2 separate regions of the Homo sapiens genome follow, and region 2 is linked to region 1. The links come from fine-mapping of genetic effects on gene expression. Tissue or cell type: T cells. Region 1 holds a variant in brackets; the other region holds the start of a gene. All regions are shown on one strand. Distances are from middle to middle. Region 1 overlaps EPHA8 (EPH receptor A8). Region 2 holds the start of C1QB (complement C1q B chain).

Evidence for each region. PIP is the estimated chance that this variant, and not a neighbour inherited with it, causes the effect. A credible set is the group of variants that fine-mapping cannot tell apart.
Region 2: C1QB starts here. The variant in region 1 is the best candidate, but not a certain one, in a credible set for the expression of C1QB in T cells (TOPMed, PIP 0.77).

What each region holds. Positions count from the first base shown.
Region 1 is chr1:22,580,672-22,585,671 of GRCh38, forward strand. All of the region lies in intron 3 of EPHA8 (EPH receptor A8), which reads left to right. Among named protein-coding and RNA genes, the nearest start is that of EPHA8, 20 kb to the left of the region's middle. The variant T/C (reference allele first, on the strand shown) is at 3,011.
Region 2 is chr1:22,650,468-22,655,982 of GRCh38, forward strand. C1QB (complement C1q B chain) reads left to right here and starts at 2,769. Exons shown (of 3, transcript NM_001378156.1): 1 at 2,769-2,836.

The DNA.
Region 1 (5,000 bases):
CTATTGCCTTCACAGCTCATAGCGGGGCGCATCACATACCAGCTCATTTGCTCATTGCAGCAAGGCAGGTATCACAATTCCATTTTACAGATGGGGAAGCTGAGGTGTAAGAGGTAGTGTTACCTGCTTAGGCCTTACAGCTAGTGAGAGCTGGAGCCTGAAGACAGGTCTGTATTGCTCTGAGCCAGGTACAGGCTTTTAGCGTCTCCCTAGCCTGCCCCAGGCTGCTTTGTCCGCCAGAGCTGCGCCAAACCTCCCCTCATTCAGGTGGGGCTAATGAAGGACCTTAGTGATGATTTTTCGTCTTTGATGTAATAATTATCCATTCTGCTGAGCATCTACTGTGTCCCGGCATTGGGGATACAGGTACAGGGAGTCCCTGCCTCTGGGGACTTAGCAATTTCTTATCCTTACAACAGTCCTTTAAGATAAGTATTATAGTCCCATTTTACTGATAAGAAAAACTGAGGTCCCTCAACTTAAGTAGCAGAGTAGTGATCTGATCCCAGGTTGCCTGACTCCAGCACCTTCAATTGCTTCCTCTGTGCACAAAGCCCTCTGCAAAGCCCCACTTCCCTCCTCCCTGGGGTAGCATTCGGATGGATGGTTAGCAACTGGTACAGCATAAGTCATAACAATCTGGCTGGTTGGCCGGTGCATACGCACTCAGGGTCGGCCACCGTCCCCAAGTCTGGATTTAGCCAGCGAGTACAAATATGCCAATTATTTGTCCCAGGTGAACTGAACCACATCTGTCTGTAGGAAGAAGACCTGCCCTCCTGTCTTTGGGGTCAAGACCTCGCTTGGAGGTCTCAGGTAACGCTGCAGTCTCCCTGTGTGGCAGAAGAGGGAAGCGGAGCCCAGAGAGGGGATATGTCTTGCCCAATTTTCTCAGCACATCAGGGGTGGGGCTCTGAGTGGAAACCCCAGGGCCTGAGTGGCAGGACCTCACGGGGGCTGGGAGAGGCCAAGGCCACTCCTATTTCCTGGCACTGCTGCCACATTAATAACAAATAAAAAGAAATGCCAAAGTGGGGTTAGGGAATTGCAGCATATTTTGAATTTTACATTTAAATAATAATACAACGTAATTATGCCAGTTGCAAGATAATTACAGGTTTTATAAAAAATATTAATTCATAGTGCACTGCAGGCAGTGAGATTTGGGAACGGAAAGCCCGTTTTAAGTCGCACAAGGAAAGACATTTCTCAGCCCCGTTGGTGGCTTCTTTGGCTGCGTAACCTCATTTGGGAAGGTCAGCACGGGTCTCAAACTAAGGCCTTTCACAAATGGGAGCCAGGTCCAAGAGCCCTGCCTGGTCCCCCTTTCTACCCCTGGAGAAGCCCTTGACCTCTTTGGAGCTGCCCGGCTCCTTGGTGGATGGCCTGGGGCAAAGGAAGGGCTGGGAACAGAGTGGGGTACCTTTCCTGGGATACTTGAGATGTCTTCTGCAATCTGGGACTGCCCCTGCCCAGCCTGAGGGAGTCTTCAGGAGACCTGCTGAGGTCCATGGGGCCCCTGCCTGGTTTGAGAACATCCTGATCCCTTCTGGGCAGTTCTCTCAGCAAACAGTTAAGGAGAGGAAGGGCGTGGAGTCAGGGGGTCTCAGCTTGCCCAGTCCTGAGCCCTTGTCCTTCTAGTGACAGGAGCAGGGGTTGAGAGCCTGAGACCCACAGCAGGGGCCAGGCCCCCTTCAACAGCTGCCCTCCCTGCCTTGGGTTTTGCCCTTAGAGGTACCCTCAGAAGGTGGCCAGGCAGTACTTGATTTTGCAGAAGACAGTATAGCCTGGGATAAGGGACCCGCCAGGTCACATGGCTCTTTAGAGGCCTTGCTTAGATTGCACTCAGACCTCAAGAGACCCATGGAAAAATGTCAGAGCCATGTGGGGTTCGTCCAGTTTACCACTGGGGAATTGGAGGCCCAGAGAAGTGAAGTGACTAGCCCAAGGGCACACAGCGAGGGGTGGTTGATAGAATCTCACATCTCCCAACTCCTTGCCCAGAGGAAGCTCCCCACACTCCACAACTCCGGATCCAGTGACCTCCCCACACCAGACTGCACTTCCCAGCACCCCCCGCACCCTGGTTCACCCCAGAAAGAGGAAGGGCCTCTCAGCGCATCACCCAGCGGAGCAGCAGCTCAGAGTCTGAAGTCCTGGTTGCTGTCCTTCCTGTCACCTGGACGCAGAATATAAATCACCCTTCGCGGCCCTAATCATCTTTCTATAAATATCAGAGAGTCTCATTTCGGAGGGGGAGCAGGAACAGTGAGCTCTTTTGCCTTCCTGACTGTGTTTAAAATCTGATTTAGAATTAATTTCCTTTGGTTGTCCACCAGCGGACACCTTATTTGTCAAATCTCCGGCTCTTTGCGGGGGAGAGCAGAGAGGTGGCCAGGGCCACAGGCAGCTGCTGGCCTGACAGGCGGCCTGGGCAAGGTGCCCTCAGCAGGGTCAGGAGCCCCTCCTGGCTCGCGGCCCAACACCCGGGCACGTGCAGGCTCCGGAAGCACCCTGGGTCGACAGGCAGGGCCGGGCCCCAGCCCAGAGCCACTCCATCTGTCTCAGCCATTAATTCCCGGCCCAGCCTCCAGGTCTCTGGGCTCCCTGAGGCCTGGTGATTAGTATTCTTATTAAAGATTATTTTATTTTCATTGCGTGGATTAATCTGGCCTTGACACATTATAGCCATATGGGTATTAGCCGAGTGTGTGAGAACTGCCGACTGGTGAGCCACAGCGGCGCAGCCATCTCTCAGCTCTGGGACGGTGCTGGGAGGACGGGGGGAAAGGCCATAGCTCCAGAGGCTCCCCCGCCTGACTGCACATTCTGGCTCTGCTGGGAACCTGGGGCAAGGCATTCAGGCTCCCTGAGCCTCTGTTTCCTCTTCTGTCGAACAATTGTAAGAATTCCAACTACATCAAATTGTTATAACAACAAGTGCCAGGCACTGCCCTGGCATGAATTTATGTGTCTTCACTCATGTCATGCTTGCCATCTCCCTCTAAGG[T/C]GGGTAGAATTATGATCTCCACCTTAAAGACGAGGAAACTGACTTCCAGCACCTTGCCTAATGTCACTGAGCTCAGATAAAGGGGGTTAGACGAGGACAGGAACCCAGGTGCTACACCCGAGCTTCTGCTCGGGCCTGACAAGGACCAGGTGGGCCCTGGAAAGGGTCAGAGACTTGCAGGGCCAGCCGTGGTGCTGGCTTCCCTCAGGCCCCGCATCACGCCATGAGGCTTTGCCTGTCCGTCTGCCAATGCCGTGGAAGCTCCCTAAGAGCAGGCCCAGCTCTTACTTCTCTTGGGTCCATAGTAGAAGCTCAGTAAATGTTGGGGAAAGGAATAAATGAGGGAGGGAAGAAGCAAATGGTCTCTGAGATGCTAATCGTTGTGGATTGGATCATTACAGTGAGGATTACTGTCATTCAGCTCAGTAACAGGTTCAACAAATATTTGCTGACAAAATGCAAAGCCCTTTTCTGATGATGCCACCCCCAGCGGCCCCCGGGGCTCAGAAGGAGCCTGTGCCCAAGGCTGTGCCCCAGGACTGAGCCTCCCGGGGGGCTTCTGGGAAGAGGAGGCGAGATCACAGTGTGTCAGTCAAGACTCCTCACGACTCCGAGCTCCTAGACCTGAGCTCAGCCCCCAGGCAGACCAGAGCCCTCTTGGGATCCTCTGGAGGGGAGGGAAAGATGTTGCAACAATGGTGCGTATTTTCCCCCACTCTGCAACTTACAAGCTCTTTCTGGCTCTGCAGCCTTCTAGAGTATGAAGCAACTTCAGGGCGTTACCATTTCTCCTGACTCCAGGTTTTCTCTCAAGTTTGTAGAATTTTACAAATGAACCTGGTTTTAGCTTTTGTAATAAAGAGATACGATCAACATCCAGAGAAGAAATGCTCTGCAGTGGCCTGATGTCTTTGTAATTGAAGGTTCTCTCAGGCACTGAGTTTTCCAGAACAGGATTTAGTGGAGAGAGAACCACAGTGAGCTTCCCAGTGGTCCCTGTTGCAAAGGACTTCAGTTCCATGGACGGAGCCGGGAGCTGCCTGGCTGGGTGGCATTTGGCCCACCTGAACCTCTGGGGTCTCTGCCCAGAGCAGATAATGGTGGGATCCATTCAATTTGAAAACTCCTGCCTGGAGTTTAACAGCATCTGCCCAGGGCTAGCACTGGACCAGGTTCTGGGACATTGAGATGAATAAGGGAGTCGTACTCTGTTTGCAAGGATCTGCCCACGGGGGCCTCCCAGTCTAGAAGGAGAGTCAGCACTGACAAGCGAGTACAGCCATAGTGTTGCAGGTGGTGAGGCCAAGCAGGGGCCGCAGGAGCAGGGCGGGGAATGGTCGTTTCTCTGTGTGTGTGTGTGTGTGTGTGTGCGCACGCGTGTGTCTAGAGTTCCAGAAGGGACAGTCAAAATTAATCTTAAAAGAGGAGCTCAGTAGGTGGACAGAGGAGAAAAGGCAGCCCAGGAAGCGGGCACAGCCTGTGCAAAGGCCCCGAGGCAGGAATCAGACTGCTGGGTGTGGGGATCGGCCAGTGCTTTAGTTTGGCCTAAGGATGGGGGTGAGGGGCAGCACTAAACAAGGCTCCAAGTGGGTTTTGGCTGGGCAGGGAGGGATTTGAACACCAGGTTTCATTGTCTAAGCCCTGGGGAGCCTGTGAGGCATGAAACAGGCAGTGACTGAGTGAGATGTGCATTTTGGAGACTCCCTCAACCTAGGGTATCCCCCTCCCTGCACAGTGGACTCCTTATTCTTTAGGCCACAACTCAAATATCATCTCCTCCTCTGGGAAGTAGCTCCTCCCACCATTTACCCTTCCATCACCTTAGCCCCCTTGTTCTCTCCCTCCCTCCTAGCAGTGATCCCAGCTGAGAGCCAGTGGCTCTGGTTCACAGCCCTCCAAGGCCCAAACAGGCCTGGTCCAGAGTTGTGCTCATGAACAGTGGTTGACTGAATGCATGATCACGCAGGCAGCTGGGTGGGGGGAGGCAGGG
Region 2 (5,515 bases), 70 kb after region 1:
CGGTTCACTGAGTCCAGTGCCCCCGGCGGGGACAGCGTGAAGGCCACGGCCACAGCATCCACTGCTCTCCTCCACCAACCCCTTAGCTGTCGGCCGGGCGAAGCTGTGGGTGATATGTCTTTCTTCTCATTTCTCTTTTGTTTAAAAAATCAATACACCATTTATGTAGGTCACAGTGTCATATCAGAAACCTGTACTTTGGAAATGACAATTTTGTGCCATTTTTATTTTCCATAATTGTTTCCTTGTTGTTCTCTCTTCATCAGGGGGGCAAGCCTTTGAAAATGCCAACGTGTCTGCCTTGCTGAGGGGAGGCGGGGGAGAGTTTTTCAGTGGGGCAGGCAAGGAGGGGTGGACGTGGGGCAGGAGCCAGGACAAGACACCCCAAGCTGCAAGGAACCCCTTTCCAACCACAGGAAGGTGAGGGGGTGTAGGTTTCTTTTTCCACTCTTTGCAGGGATCAGGGATTTTCCACTCTCAATCAGGGATGTGAGTCCAAAATTTTGTAGGTACAGAGACCAGCTGGCTCCCATTAGCGGTCAAGGCCCAGGGACCCCTCAGCTCCTGATCCCCAAGTCCAGGCCTCCTCCTAATCCAGGCATGGCTTCTTTGCTCCTGGGTTCCAAGAATTCCATCTTCTCTTCATATAAGTAATACCGTTCCCATGTTTGCAGTGGGTGCCCACCAAGGGCTGGGCACTCACCTGGCCCTGGACATGGCAGGGGGACCTCGCTGGCCCCCAAAACAGCCCCAGGAGATAGGCGTTCATGCTTCCCATTTCTACACGAGGAAACTGAGGCCAGTAAACATTCCCGTGGCCACATAGTTAGCAAGACGAAGAGCTGGGATTCAAACTGCCAAAGTCCGTGCTCCTAACCCACCTCTGCTGCTTCCTGTTCTTAGCCTCACTGCTTCTACCCCAAATTGACATCCATCTTTTCCCATTGCCCTTAGCCACCTAAGAATTAGAGGCCCAGAGGCTGGGCATGGTGGCTCACGCCTGTAATCCCAGCACTTTGGGAGGCCGAGGCAGGCAGATCAACTTGAGGTCAGGAGTTTGAGACCGGCCTGGCCAACATGGTGAAACCCTGTATCTACTAAAAAAAAATACAAAAATTAGCTGGGCTTGGTGGCATGCACCTGTAGTCCCAGCTACCTGGGAGGCTGAGGCAGGAGAATCGCTTGAACTTGGGAGGAAGAGGTTCTAGTGAGCTGAGGTCGCACCACTGCACTCCAGCCTGAGCAACAGACTGAGACTCCATCTCAAGAAAAAAAAAAAAAAAAAGAACTAGAGGCCCAGAGCCACTCGGCTTTGGGAATGCTCAGAAGCCCTCAACTTGCAACCTACTAACTCGTTTCTCCCTTTGTGGAATCCAGTGTTTCTTCTCTTCACCCTAGCCTGGGTCCCTTCGGGACTATAGTTGACTGAGCTCAGAGACCTTTTGGTTTTATCAAACTTATCTTTCCCTCCTGTTCACCCATTGCAGTTAACACTTAATTTCCACCAAGCTGCATCCACAAGCCCAGTGAATTTCCATCTCCAAGCACAGATGTCAAGAGGGCCTCCAGCTCCTGGTGCTTGCTAGTCATCATGTCGTCTGAGACGCAGCCACAGGGAGAGACTGATATCCTAGTGCCAGGGATGCCGGCTTCCAGGTCTGCATCTGCCACCTCCATGAGGCATCGGCCCCAGCAGTCACGTCTTTCTGTGACATTTATCACAGAAGCAATGAAGCCTCATGTCATTCCGTGTTTAACACCAGTCTCCCCCCGTAGAAGGGAGGCCCCATGGGGGCAGGGACCATGGCTGATTTGCTAAGAGCTCTCTCTTCAGTGCACATGGAAGCAAACACTAAATATTTGTTAAATGGTGGGTCTCCCCTCTGGGCCTCAGTTTCCTCGTATATAAAATGAGGAGGATGGGCCGAGTAACCTCAGCCCCTCTCCGGCCCTAACTTGGCGTGATTCCAGGATCGAGAAGAAGCAACAGGCCCCTGCCTGGGCCTATTATTGTCATCAGCGTCCAGCCCTGCTGGAAGCAGAGGGAGGGGTATCAATAAATAATGAACACATTTAAAATTCATTATGAGATTATTTTCTGAGAACAGGGAAAGAGCAGGGGCACAGAATGGGAAGGAAGCAGAAGAGATGAGCCCAGAAAGGGGAAGCCTGGGACATGAAGTGATATTAACAATGAACACGTGCACAGCCCTTTACAGTTTACCCCCAGACACTTCCTCCCCCATCATTTCCTCCATTATCCTCCCAGTGGCCTGTGAGATCTGTATCTGTAGAGCAGGTACAATTATGGTCCCATCCTATAGCAGAGAAAATTGGGGCTCCCTTGACTGACAACACATCAACTGGCAAGTGGCAGAGGCGGGATTGGAATCAAAGGCTCTGACTGTAAGCCAGCACTCAGGCAGCGGGCCCGCCACATGATGCTCACTGAGGAACACCCCTGCCCAGTGTAGAAGAAGATCACGAGGTCAGAGAGCCTGGGAGGGTGAGCTGTGGATGTTCCCCCAGGACAGCGTGTTCTCCCCACAGCTGCTGAGTTGGCAGAACCAAACTTGCCACCCACCCGTCTCATTTACAGTAAATCCAGTGGGTTGCAGAAATAGGACCTGAAACTGCCTGAGGGCAGCAGGGTGGGGGGACAGTGAGGGGACGGGAAAGGGGCCAGCCTGCTGGTCCATGGGAGGGGACCGTCAGGGGAAAGCCCTTCCCGCCTCTGGGGAAGGGAACTTCCGCTTCGGACCGAGGGCAGTAGGCTCTCGGCTCCTGGTCCCACTGCTGCTCAGCCCAGTGGCCTCACAGGACACCAGCTTCCCAGGTGAGGACGGGGCTTGGCGCCTGGGGGAGGCTGGCAGGGCCAATATGGCAGAAAGTGGTGATTCCGTAAGTGTGAGCTTTGCGTCACCTGCCTCGGAGCCAGTTAGGCTGTTTAACAGTGCAGGTAGCTGGGCCCAATCCCAGACCTATGGGACCCAGATCTCTGGGGTGAGTTGGGGAGTCTGCTGCTACCCAGGGCCTAGCGGATGGGCAGGCCACCTAAAGCGGGAGCCTGGCACATAGGAGCTTTGGCATCGCAGAGACTTGAGCTGAGTCTGGCTCTGCACCTTATGTATTGGTTATCTTGGGCAAGTCACCTAACCTCTCTCAGCCCGGCCCCCCTACAGAGAACAGAATCTTTCAGCACTGCTGTGCCTTACAGGAGATCAAGCTTGCAAAAGCTTAGTGCATGCCCTGGCTCAAAATTTATCAGTAAACCAGAGGCAGGAGTGGGATTATAAGCCAGTCGCTCCTGCCCGGCCCAGCATTTCCCCAACACCTTGCTTATTTCCTCATACTCGCTGAGAAAGCTCAGCTTGACTCTTCCAAAGAAATAAGGGGATGTGCAGGTAGAGTTACGATGAGTTCTCAGCTAGTACTGAGTGAGCGCAATGTTTGTGCAGCTGGGGAGTGGGATGTGGCACTGCACGGGGCAGGGGGGACCTTATTTCTTCTAAGCGCCTTCTCCTGTCATCCTTCTGGCAGCCCTGTCAGGTTGAAATCAGCATTGCCAAGAGGCTCAGAGAGGTTAAGGCACTTGCCTGAGGTTATGCAGCCGGTAGCAGATGGGGCTTTAAAGTCAAGTGGGCCTGACTCCATGTTGCGGAAAGGGACTGCTGGACCGAAGGAGATGGAAAGGTCAGAGCCTGGGGGGAGGACAGGAGAAACCGCGCTGGCAATGATGATGGGCTGGCACAGGCAGGAGGCAGTTAAACCAGATGAGTTGTAAGCCCTAACCCAAGGCTGAAACTCGGTGGCTTTTGAAATGGGCTAGAACCAGCACTTTCCCACTCCCCCTGCCCCTGGCTTCCCCAGGAAGCCCAAGTCCTGTCAGTACCCTGCTCCCCACCCTCTCTCCCCACCAACTGGTCACAGCTCTCCACCCCTTGCTGCCTCCAACTGACAGAGCCCCTCCCTCTAAACACAGTCTTTCAAAGGGATTGTCTTTTTTTACTTCTCCAACCATCTTCCCTTCTGTTCAACCACTCAGGAATTCTTGGATGACAGTGATAATAATAAAATAGCTAATATTCATTAAGAATTTCCAACATGCCAGGCTCTGTTGGAAGCTGTAACTCATGTCCTCGCACATACCCTATGAGGGAGAGAGTAGCATTATCCCCACTTTATAGGAGGGTAAACTGTGGCCAGAGAGAAGGAGTGATTTCCCAAGTCCCTTAGCTAAGAAGCAGTAGAGACCTTATGTGAACGCTGAGTGTTGCTTTCCTTGTGACACTACAGGCTCCCGCCACCAGGTGAATGTGTGCTGCCTAACAAGAGCAGCAATCATCGTGGTGGTAAAAAGCCACTTTCACCGAACACTGACCATGTGCCTACCACTACCCTTGGTGTGTCCCATGCATTAGTCCTTTTATCAGGCTGTCTGGCTTCAAAGTTTATGTTTTTACCACCAGGTACAGTGGCCTCTTAACATAACATTGAGTTTTAAGATCCAGTGGATGTGGGTTTGACTCCCAGCCACACAGGAGCTGTGTGACTTTTATCAAGGTGCTTGCCCTCTCTGATCCCGTTGCCTCATCTGTAAAATAAGAAAGCAAGAGTGCATTCTCAGGGGCTGAATATCAAATTACAGGGGATAATGGCATGCAAGCCATCTGGCTCAGAGCCTGGCCTATACGTACCCAACTTATTAAAGTTGTTAAATTGCCATTTTGTAAAACCTTTAGCAAGAGCAAGAGTGAGAGCTGATGCTTATTCATGGATAAGCAGGACCATGCCCCTGAGCCACCCTGTCTTCAGAGCATAGAGCCTGACAGAACCTAAAGCTGTCACCAGCATTCCCTGGCCACACTCATCTTTACAGCTTCCTTTCCTTGGTGCACAGTGTCTGGCATAACTCAGGGCTTTCAGCAAGAAATTGATCAGGACTAGGCTGAGGGGCTGAGGCTGGTTTGCAGAGCATAGGAGCCAAATATCAGTAGGCCTTGTCTGGTCCCAGGGAGCCCTCCACATGCCAGACTCTGGGGTTGGGACAGCCAGCATGTGGCAGAGAGGGTAGGAGTTTGGCCACAACCCTGCTGTTAGAATAGTTTGCTGGGTGATTTTTGGGTAGGTTGCTTTCTAAGTTCCGATCCTCAGTTTCCTCATCTGCAAGATGGGAAATTAATCACAACCCACTTCCCCAGGGTGTTGAGAGGATCAGAGAACAGCAGCAATAGCAGTAGCAGCCACAAGTCCCAATGAGAGCTTGGGGCTCAAGGCTTTATGACTCTTTCCCATCCATGGTCTCACCTGGGTCCCTGTGGCCACTCTGGGAAGTAGGCAGAGACCACTCTGCTCCCCCATTTTAAGAGAGGATACAGTTCAGCCTCTGAGGAAAGGTTTCCTGGAGGAAGAAGGCTTTGACCCAAGCTTCGAATGAAGAAAAAACATTTGGATCTGGGCAAAGGTGGAATGGGCTGCCTCGAGAGGTAATGAGCTGCCCATCACTGAAACGGTG